Linked DNA regions of Homo sapiens: regions 1 and 3 are each linked to region 2. Evidence: fine-mapped expression QTL. A gene starts in region 2. Each other region holds a variant in brackets. All regions are shown on one strand. Distances are between the middles of the regions. Region 1 overlaps AMIGO1 (adhesion molecule with Ig like domain 1). Region 2 holds the start of ATXN7L2 (ataxin 7 like 2). Region 3 overlaps SORT1 (sortilin 1).

Evidence for each region. PIP is the estimated chance that this variant, and not a neighbour inherited with it, causes the effect. A credible set is the group of variants that fine-mapping cannot tell apart.
Region 1: its variant is the best candidate, but not a certain one, in a credible set for the expression of ATXN7L2 in whole blood (INTERVAL, PIP 0.87).
Region 3: its variant is the best candidate, but not a certain one, in a credible set for the expression of ATXN7L2 in aorta (GTEx, PIP 0.79).

Annotation. Positions count from the first base shown.
Region 1 is chr1:109,503,342-109,506,088 of GRCh38, forward strand. AMIGO1 (adhesion molecule with Ig like domain 1) reads right to left here. Exons shown (of 2, transcript NM_020703.4): 2 at 837-2,747. Among named protein-coding and RNA genes, the nearest start is that of AMIGO1, 5.0 kb to the right of the region's middle. The variant G/A (reference allele first, on the strand shown) is at 1,370.
Region 2 is chr1:109,482,684-109,485,443 of GRCh38, forward strand. It overlaps ATXN7L2 (ataxin 7 like 2), which reads left to right and starts at 1,222. Exons shown (of 11, transcript NM_001350175.2): 1 at 1,222-1,397. The coding sequence starts at 1,271. RefSeq lists enhancers at 694-1,311, 1,312-1,931 and a silencer at 1,125-1,294.
Region 3 is chr1:109,367,925-109,370,684 of GRCh38, forward strand. It overlaps SORT1 (sortilin 1), which reads right to left. Exons shown (of 20, transcript NM_002959.7): 2 at 1,606-1,665. Among named protein-coding and RNA genes, the nearest start is that of SORT1, 29 kb to the right of the region's middle. The variant A/G (reference allele first, on the strand shown) is at 1,505.

The DNA.
Region 1 (2,747 bases), 21 kb after region 2:
GAGCGCCAAGTCATGGGATTTCTAAACTCTAAAGCTTCAGTGACATTTGAGAATCTTAGGGGTCAGCAAAGTATGGTCTGTTGGTCAAACCAGCCCACTGCCTGGTTTTATGTGGCCTGTGAGCTAATAGTAGTTTATATATATATATATATATATATATAACATTTTTTTTTTTTGAGATGGAGTCTTGCTCTGTTGCCCAGGCTGGAGTGCAGTGGCGCTATCTTGGCTAACTGCAAGCTCCACCTCCCGGGTTCACCCCATTCTCCTGCCTCAGCCTCCTGCGTAGCTGGGACTACAGGCGCCCACCACCACACCCGGCTAATTTTTTGTATTTTTAGTGGAGACGGGGTTTCACCGTGTTAGCCAAGATGGTCTCGATCTCCTGACCTTGTGATCCACCTGTCTCGGCCTCCCAAAGTGCTGGGATTACAGGCGTGAGCCACCGCGCCCGGCCTAGTTTATATATTTTTTAATGCTTGGAAAAACTCAAAAGGCATGTTAAAATATGAAATTCAAATTTCAATGTCCATAAGTCAAATCTTTTTTGGACCACAGCCACAGTCATTCATTTTTGTCCTGTCTGTGGCTACACTCAAGCTATAGCAGCACAGCTGAGTTGTAACAGAGACTGTGTGGTCTGCAGAGCCTAAAATATTTACTATCTGGCTCGTTAGGGAAAATGTTTGCTGACCCCGGTCCATCTTAATGCCTAGATGTGTATTTCACCCATGTCCGTACAATAGCACTTAAAGATTTTCTTCCTAGATAGGACACACCCTTCTGAGGTACAGTGAACCCCACCCACAGGCTGAAAAAATAAACCAGTCAGATTGTGCCAGAACAGAGACTCAAGCCAGGTTTAATGATCATTGTCTAGTTTTCAGAGCCCAGAGGCTCCAAGATTTGCCAGCCTAGGTGTACACAAGTGGGAGGAATGGGGTCTTGGACACGGGAGGCCTGCTTGCTTTGTCAGCAGAGCTACGAGGAAGTACAGAGGTAAGAACACACAGAAAACTGGATCCATCTGCTTTGCTCTCCCCAGCTGGGGTGTACCCTCTCCTGGCCCCTTTCTTGGGCCCCATAAATACAAAATAATAATAATAATAATAATTACACAGATTGTAGAGCCCTGTCATCCTCTGTCTCCAGGGACACCTGCTTCCTGGGAGACATGTCTGGTTTATGGGTGTGGGGTAGGGTAAGAGGAGGTGGTGATCTCTCGGCCTTTTCTTATACCCACACCTGGCAGTTTTCAACACAGGGTTCTAGTGCGCTTACATATGCTGATTATTCAATTCTCCAATTAAAAAGCTACCTTTGGGTTCTATCACCTGAAACCACGGGAAGAAACAAATCAAATCTCTTG[G/A]TAGGGCAGCCAGGTACATCTACCAGGTGTCTCAAACTCAAGGCCAAACTAGTGGATATAGTCAGGAGACTTAAGAGCCACAGGGCCTTTTCTCATTCCCTAAACTGGGTAGGAATTATGAAGAAAACGGCCCTCCCAGTCCTCAGGAGCTCCATCACGATGCCCCAGAAGGCCTGCTTCATTTAACGCTCACTTTAAAGATCTTCAGAGCCCTAGATGGTGCCAAGCGGGGAGACTGCAGCATGGAGATGAGATTTTCCCAGATTTCCTGATGAGTCTGAGGAGGGAGTCCTAGTTCCTATAGCTCCAGTAACAAAATTCTCAGGAGTCTCTGGAATAAATCAAGACAACTTTTCTCTCCTGAGGACAGTTAACAGGAAGAGCAGCTCACAGCTACTTAGCCCCTTGCCAGTTTCCTTCTGAGTCCTTCAATGACCTAGTTCTATCTTAATTGCTCATATATTGCTCATATATATAGTCTTCACGGGAGGTTTCTGAGGAGTCCAAAGAACCAGGTAGCTCCTTACCACCTCTTCTCCCAAGGCCTTCAACCCATGGTTCTTCTAACTCCAGCCTGGGCAGAAAAGTGATTCAGTGCCATGGAGATGTGGGTGAAGCTTCAGGGAGTTCAGAAATGAAAATACAGGAGTGTGTATTTGAAGAGCCTGGCATGGTCACTGTCTCTCCTAAAGAGGAATACAATTGTGTGCATGAAGTTGTGCACATTGGTGGAGACCATTCTGAGAGTATCATTAATGGGGACTACAGATTCACTGTCCTGGTGGAAGTCAAGGTGCTGGTGTGCATGCATACCTATAAGCATGCATACCTATGAGCATGCAGGTACTTGAGGGAAATGCTGCACCTCTCTCTCAACAAAACTAGGTTACTAATAAAGGATGGACAGCAGTCTTGAGTTCCCAGGACCAGACAAGGGGAAGATGTTGAGTCCCCTTCCCCAATCATAATAGGAAGCTTAATAGTCAGGCCCTCCAAGCCCCTCACCCACAGGTAAATGACACCTCTTAGAATGTAAAAAGAGGTCAGAAATCTAGAGGATCTGGAGAACTTCCAATGGACTAGAAACGTGGGAGAGAAGAGACCCTAAGAAAAACCAACATCAGAGAACATTTTCACCTTCACCCTGCTCATCCCCCGCCAAAGCTCAGAGCAGCCACTCACAGGGCATGCAGTGTAGTCAAAGGGAAAGGTTAAAGGGATCGGTCATCTCCATACTCAAAGTATTCTGCAACCTTGGATGGAATGGAATGTTGAGCTCATTCTTCTTAAGTTCCTCTGGCCTCACAACCACAACTGCAAAGACCTCTCGATGGAGGAATGGGGTGGCAGAACTCCCCTTCTGAAAGTTTAGTACTAC
Region 2 (2,760 bases):
GCCCTCAGAGATTATTCTTGAAGTACTTACACCTTCCCTGGATGAAAAGGAGAAGAAAATCTGAGGTCTTGCTCCCCAACTTGTTTTCCCCTTAGCTAAAGGGTCAAGCGTCGGGGGTGAGGTGTGAGAGGTTGAGGAGGAAAAAGGATTAGTATTACTTTTTTAATGCGATGGCGGCGGGGGGGGGGCGGGAAATGGAGTAGGCAGACTTTTGTCTGATTGTGTGAGGGTGGGAAGAAATGTTATCAGCTGAGAAGATGAAAGAAATGGATGATTAAGGTACTTTCCAGACCTTAGCAAGGAAGATGACAGCTCTGATGAGAAATCTCCCTATGCCGAGGCTTCAGAAGCAGCCCTTCCAGCAGAGAAAGTATTCATTAGAAAAAGAAGGCAAAGTGATGGATGGAGTCAGGGTCCAGCCAGGGTTTGGGAAGAGGCTGTACAGGGTATCGATCGCAGTTCTCAAGAGAAGAGAGACAGATCAGCAGAGATGCTGCAAACACCAGCTGCCTCGGGGCCACCCCAGTTCTGGGGCTGGCTCTGGCTCGGAGACAGCCTTCTGTCATCCTGTCATCATGACAGGTGATCTTGGTCAGCTTGGCCAGGTCCTCTCAAATCCAGACAACGCCACGCCAACCCTCTGCTCTGCATCAGGGCAGCGTGGGTTTCCCACAGAGGAGGCACGACACGGGAGCCGAGGCCCTCCCCCACACCACCCCTGTGTCCTTCAGCACCTCCTACAGACTCCCTCCCCTTGCCCTTCTGATTCACAGCGCCCACCTCCCTGCACCTACCCTATTCGATCTACAGGGGAGCGGAGTCGCTTCGTGGCCGCCAGCCCGGGAAGGGGCGCCAGCCAGCTGGCGGACGCACGGCTTAGAGGGGCGTCTGGGCAGAGAGGTTTGGGGCTGGGGAGAGATGCAGTGAGCTTGGGAGAGTGGACTGGTAGCACAAATAATGTGTGCATAAGGGTTAGAAGAGGAGGTCCTGGAGCTTTGGTCTTCTCTTTTCCCCCTGCAATTGTGCATTTCGGAGGGACTCTTGCTGCAAGCTCGGTAGGCAATAGCATCCGCTCCAAGACTACACTTCCCAGAAGGCTGTGAGTGGGTGGGGGGGGGGGGGGCGCGGGGAACAGGCAACCTGTGTTGCGCTTGCGCAAAGACTGCGCTGGAAAGGCAGGTGGGGAGGAGGGGAGGCGTGCCCGCGACGGGGCGAGGGGGAGGGGGCCGCGCGGCGGCGGCGCCAGGGCGGGCGCGCGTCCGCGGCGGTGATGGCGGTGCGTGAACGCGCGGCGGCAGCAATGGCCGCTCTGGAGCGGCGGGTGCCGAGTCTCGATGACTTCGCGGGACAGAGCTGGAGCTCGTGGGTGGAGCGGGCCGACCTGCCCGCGGCTGACGGTGAGTAAAGCCACCCTAAAGTCCGGGGACCCCATCACTATCTCCCCTCCCCCCTTCCGGGCCCCCGCCAGCTGAGGGGAGCCGCCGACTGGAGCCGCCGTCCGGCTCCCCGGCCCCCCAAACAAAGGACCCGCCGGGTCCTAGTGCCCGCCCGCTCCGTCACCTTCGCGCCTCCGGGTCCTAGCGCCTGCTCACCGCTCGCAGCCCACCCTGCCAACCTCTGCCTCTGCCAGTCGCTAATACCTGCCCCCATATAGGCTTGCCTTTATCTTTCTCCTTGCCTGCTGCCCCTCAGCTCGCGACCCTCCTGCACCTGCCTCCAGCTTTCCCTGTCCGCAACAGTCCTCCACGTGTTTCCCACGCACCCCACTTCTGTGCCCCCTTCCTCACCCCCCTTGTTCCTTCGCCTTTTGCCCCACACCTCCTGCTCCTTTTCGGCATTTGCCTGCAGCTGCAGTGCTTTTAGACCCCCGCCCTCTCCGCGTTAGTTCGTCCGTCCATCCATCTATCCTCCCTCCCTCCATCCTTCGGTCCATCCATCCATGCCTCCAACCCACTGTCCTTTCCCAGGCCTCTTGCCCTGCCTCTTGGCTCTCTGCTCTTACTCTCACCTTCTCTAGGCCCCTGAGTGCCTTAGTGAGCGGGCCTACAGCCCCTTCTTCTGATCTTTGTCTTCTGGGCCCCAGGGAGCACCTGGCCTCGTGGCCTTTCGGGGTGACAGCAGGCATCACGCCCCTGAAGAAGTTTGCAAGTGAGAAGAGGTGGAGGAGGAGACTGCACGGAGGGGTCTCTAATGACACTTGTTCTCCTCTGAGACATCCGACTCCCAGTTTCGTTCTATCCATCATTCCCCGCACTTGCATTTAACGGACTTAGAGTGGGAGCTGCCCCTTGTCTCTTGCGTGCCTAACCCACGACCCCTCATAATCTGGATATTATATAAGATTGTCAACAATCTTCTCATCCTAGAAAGGAGCATATCTGTTAATGGGCATCAGAGAGCAGACCTAAGTGGGAGCCCAGGCCACCCTGGGGCTGCCCCATGCTGGGTGGGCAAAGATGGGGCCATTGTCAGGGTCTGGGTGCATTGAGAACCGGAAATGGAGTCAGACGGGTTTGGTGACTCAGAATTGATTTTTTTTTTCCCAAGGGACAGGGAGGGGGCGTAGAGGAGGGAGGGGGGAGGAGAGAGGTAGGGGGATGGGGAAAAAGCTGCTTTGCACAGCTAAGATGTTTTTGTCATTAACCCAGAAACTGAGGTACAAGGGCAACCCCTGCCCAAAGGCCCTCTAAGAAGGGGAGGGACTTGCATAGCTGACCAAGGAGACTTTGAAGATGCTCAAGGACCAAAGACAGCAGTTTC
Region 3 (2,760 bases), 110 kb before region 2:
AAAAACTATGCATGAGGAAATGATTCTGGATGGATTACTATAAGAGTCTAGGGAGTCTCAGAAAGCCATATGAGAAATCTTGGAGATGGCTGGGCACGGTGGCTCACGCCTGTAATCACAGCACTTTGGGAGGCTGAGGCGGACGGATCACTTGAGGTCAGAAGTTCGAGACTAGCCTGGCTAACATGGTGAAACCCCATCTCTACTTAAAATACAAAAATTAGCCGGGCGTGGTGGTGCTTGCCTGTAGTCCCAGCTTCTTGGGAGGCTGAGGCATGAGAATTGCTTGAACCTGGGAGGTGGACGTTGCTGTGAGCCAAGATTGCACCACTGCTCTCCAGCCTGGGTGACAGAGCAAGACTCTGTCTCAAAAAAAAAAAAAAAAAAAAAAATTCTTGGAGATACCAACTATCTAAGATAAATGGGTAAATCATGGAAATTAGGGTACAACTCAAATTTTAGAAAAAACTGAACTATGCTTAAAGAAATTCTACTGAAAGTTTAAAAATTAATCAAAATAAGAAATTTACAATTTGCTTTTCAGCACCAAGATTTTATTTCTTTAGGCTTCTAATATAACTATCATGTGCCTCAATGCTATGACACATGCATTATGGAATACCAGGGGGCAGGAGATGTTGCCCCTGCTCTTGTTCAAGCAGGATAATAAGACAGCCAGGCAACAAGTCCTGATTTAAGACCAGGGGCCAATGTATCCTCAGCGTGTCCTCCTAGTGGGAGCCCAGCTGTATATCAGGAGGGATAAGGAGCTGACTGATCCTCCTTCCATTCCCCCAATCCTGGCAGTACCTCCTTTGTGGCAGGGGCAGGGACCAACAGATGAACAACCATGAGCCCATGGGCACCACAGTCCCTCAACACACCTGTAGGAAAGGACACAGGAACAATACAATTTGGAGGAAAAGTGCCAGGATGTTTTTAATGGACATTTTCTGTTTCTATATAGGGGTTTCCCCAAGCATTGTGCGCTTCCCTTCTCAGTACAGAGCACTTTCATCTTTCTTCTTGCTCATCTTGATGCTAAGCAGCCACCAAGGACTGAAAAGGTGTCCATCTTCCCACCGTGGAAGAAGGTGGTCAGAAGATGTTCCCGGCCAGGCGCAGTGGCTCATGCCTGTAATCCCAGCACTTTTGGGAGGCTGAGGCGCGTGGATCACCTGAGGTCAGGCGTTCAAGACCAGCCTGGCCAACATGGTGAAACCTCATCTTCACTAAAAATACAAAAAATCAGCTGTGCATGGTGGTGGGTGCCTGTAATCCCAGCTCCTTGGGAGGCTGAGGCAGGAGAATCGCTTGAACCCGGGAGGTGGAGGTTGCAGTGAGCTGAGATCATGCCATCGCACTCCAACTTGGGCAACAAGAGCGAAACTCCGTCCCCACCCCCCCGCAAAAAAGATGTTCCCAATTCTAAAGCAAAACCAACACAACTACAACTTCCTGAAAGTCTGTCTTGCAAACATGTGTTTTCTGTGATTGAGGCTAA[A/G]GACAGTTTCAGGAAGAAATGATATTAGGTGCTTAACCCTTCCCCAAATCTGTTATCATCTTCTTGCTGGGCTGAAATAACAGACTCAAAATATGACTTACCCCAGTGCTATCTCCAACCCAGGACAAGGATACTGAGCCTCTGAGATCATCAAACACATGCTATAAGGGGAAAAAAAATTAATTTAGAAATGACAGCCACTCTCCTTCAATCTTTGGCTTCTTTAAATATCTGAACTTTATTACTGTTCAGAGTAATTAAGTTCATAATTACAAAGTGGGTATGGATTCCCAGTACAAAATTTGGGAGGGATGGGATTTAACTACTTAATGTGAATCACAAATAACTTGGAAATTTAAATTCTCTCTAACACAAAGTAAGCCAAGCAGATGAGTTTTCTTTACTGCACCAGATGGGGAGATGGGAGATGGGACAATCTAATTGCTTTCTCCAACAGAACTAAATATAAAGGTATAGCAAAGTATTTTTAGGATGCTTTAAAACAAAAGATCATAGCCCACACTGGCAGGCGTAATTGTAACCAAATCAACATAATTTAAATTTTTCTGGGCATCCTTTACAGTATAGCTGAAAAGTTCGTAACTGGATTCCTTTTACTTCTAGTCTAGCTCACTCAAAAATGACAACGGGCAGAAGCAAGAAGCAAATGCCTTTGTTTCACCTTTTTATTTAATAACAATAGTAATAATGATAATAATAAAACAACCTTACTAGAGTTGCAGTGAGAGTAAGGAGGTAAAAAAGGGAAAGCTGGTATATTATATCCAAAATATAGTAAGCATGTTAAAATATAGTTATAATAATCATTGTAGGTGGTTTTGGGTTTTGTTTTTCAAATACTTCCTTTCTCTACTTATACAATAATATATATTCATTAAAGAAGATGTAGACAATTATAAGAACGCATAATAAAGATAAGTCACTCATAATCCTACCACATAGAGATATTCAAGGTTAATATTATATGTATTAATACAATCGTCTGTTCTCTATAATTTTTGTAACTGATAAAAAAAATAAAAATTCCAAAGAGGTAATAACTGCACTTGGCAAAAATTTCAAACCATATAGAAATTACATACTATATAGAGTCTATATAGCAAAGAGTGAAGATCCTTCTCTTTTCCAGGCCACATGCTCACCACCCAAGCCCCATTTCTTAGACAGTTTAATAGTTCAGTATATATTTCTAATAAATGTGGATGATTATGCTTTTTTCTTAAGACTTATAATCT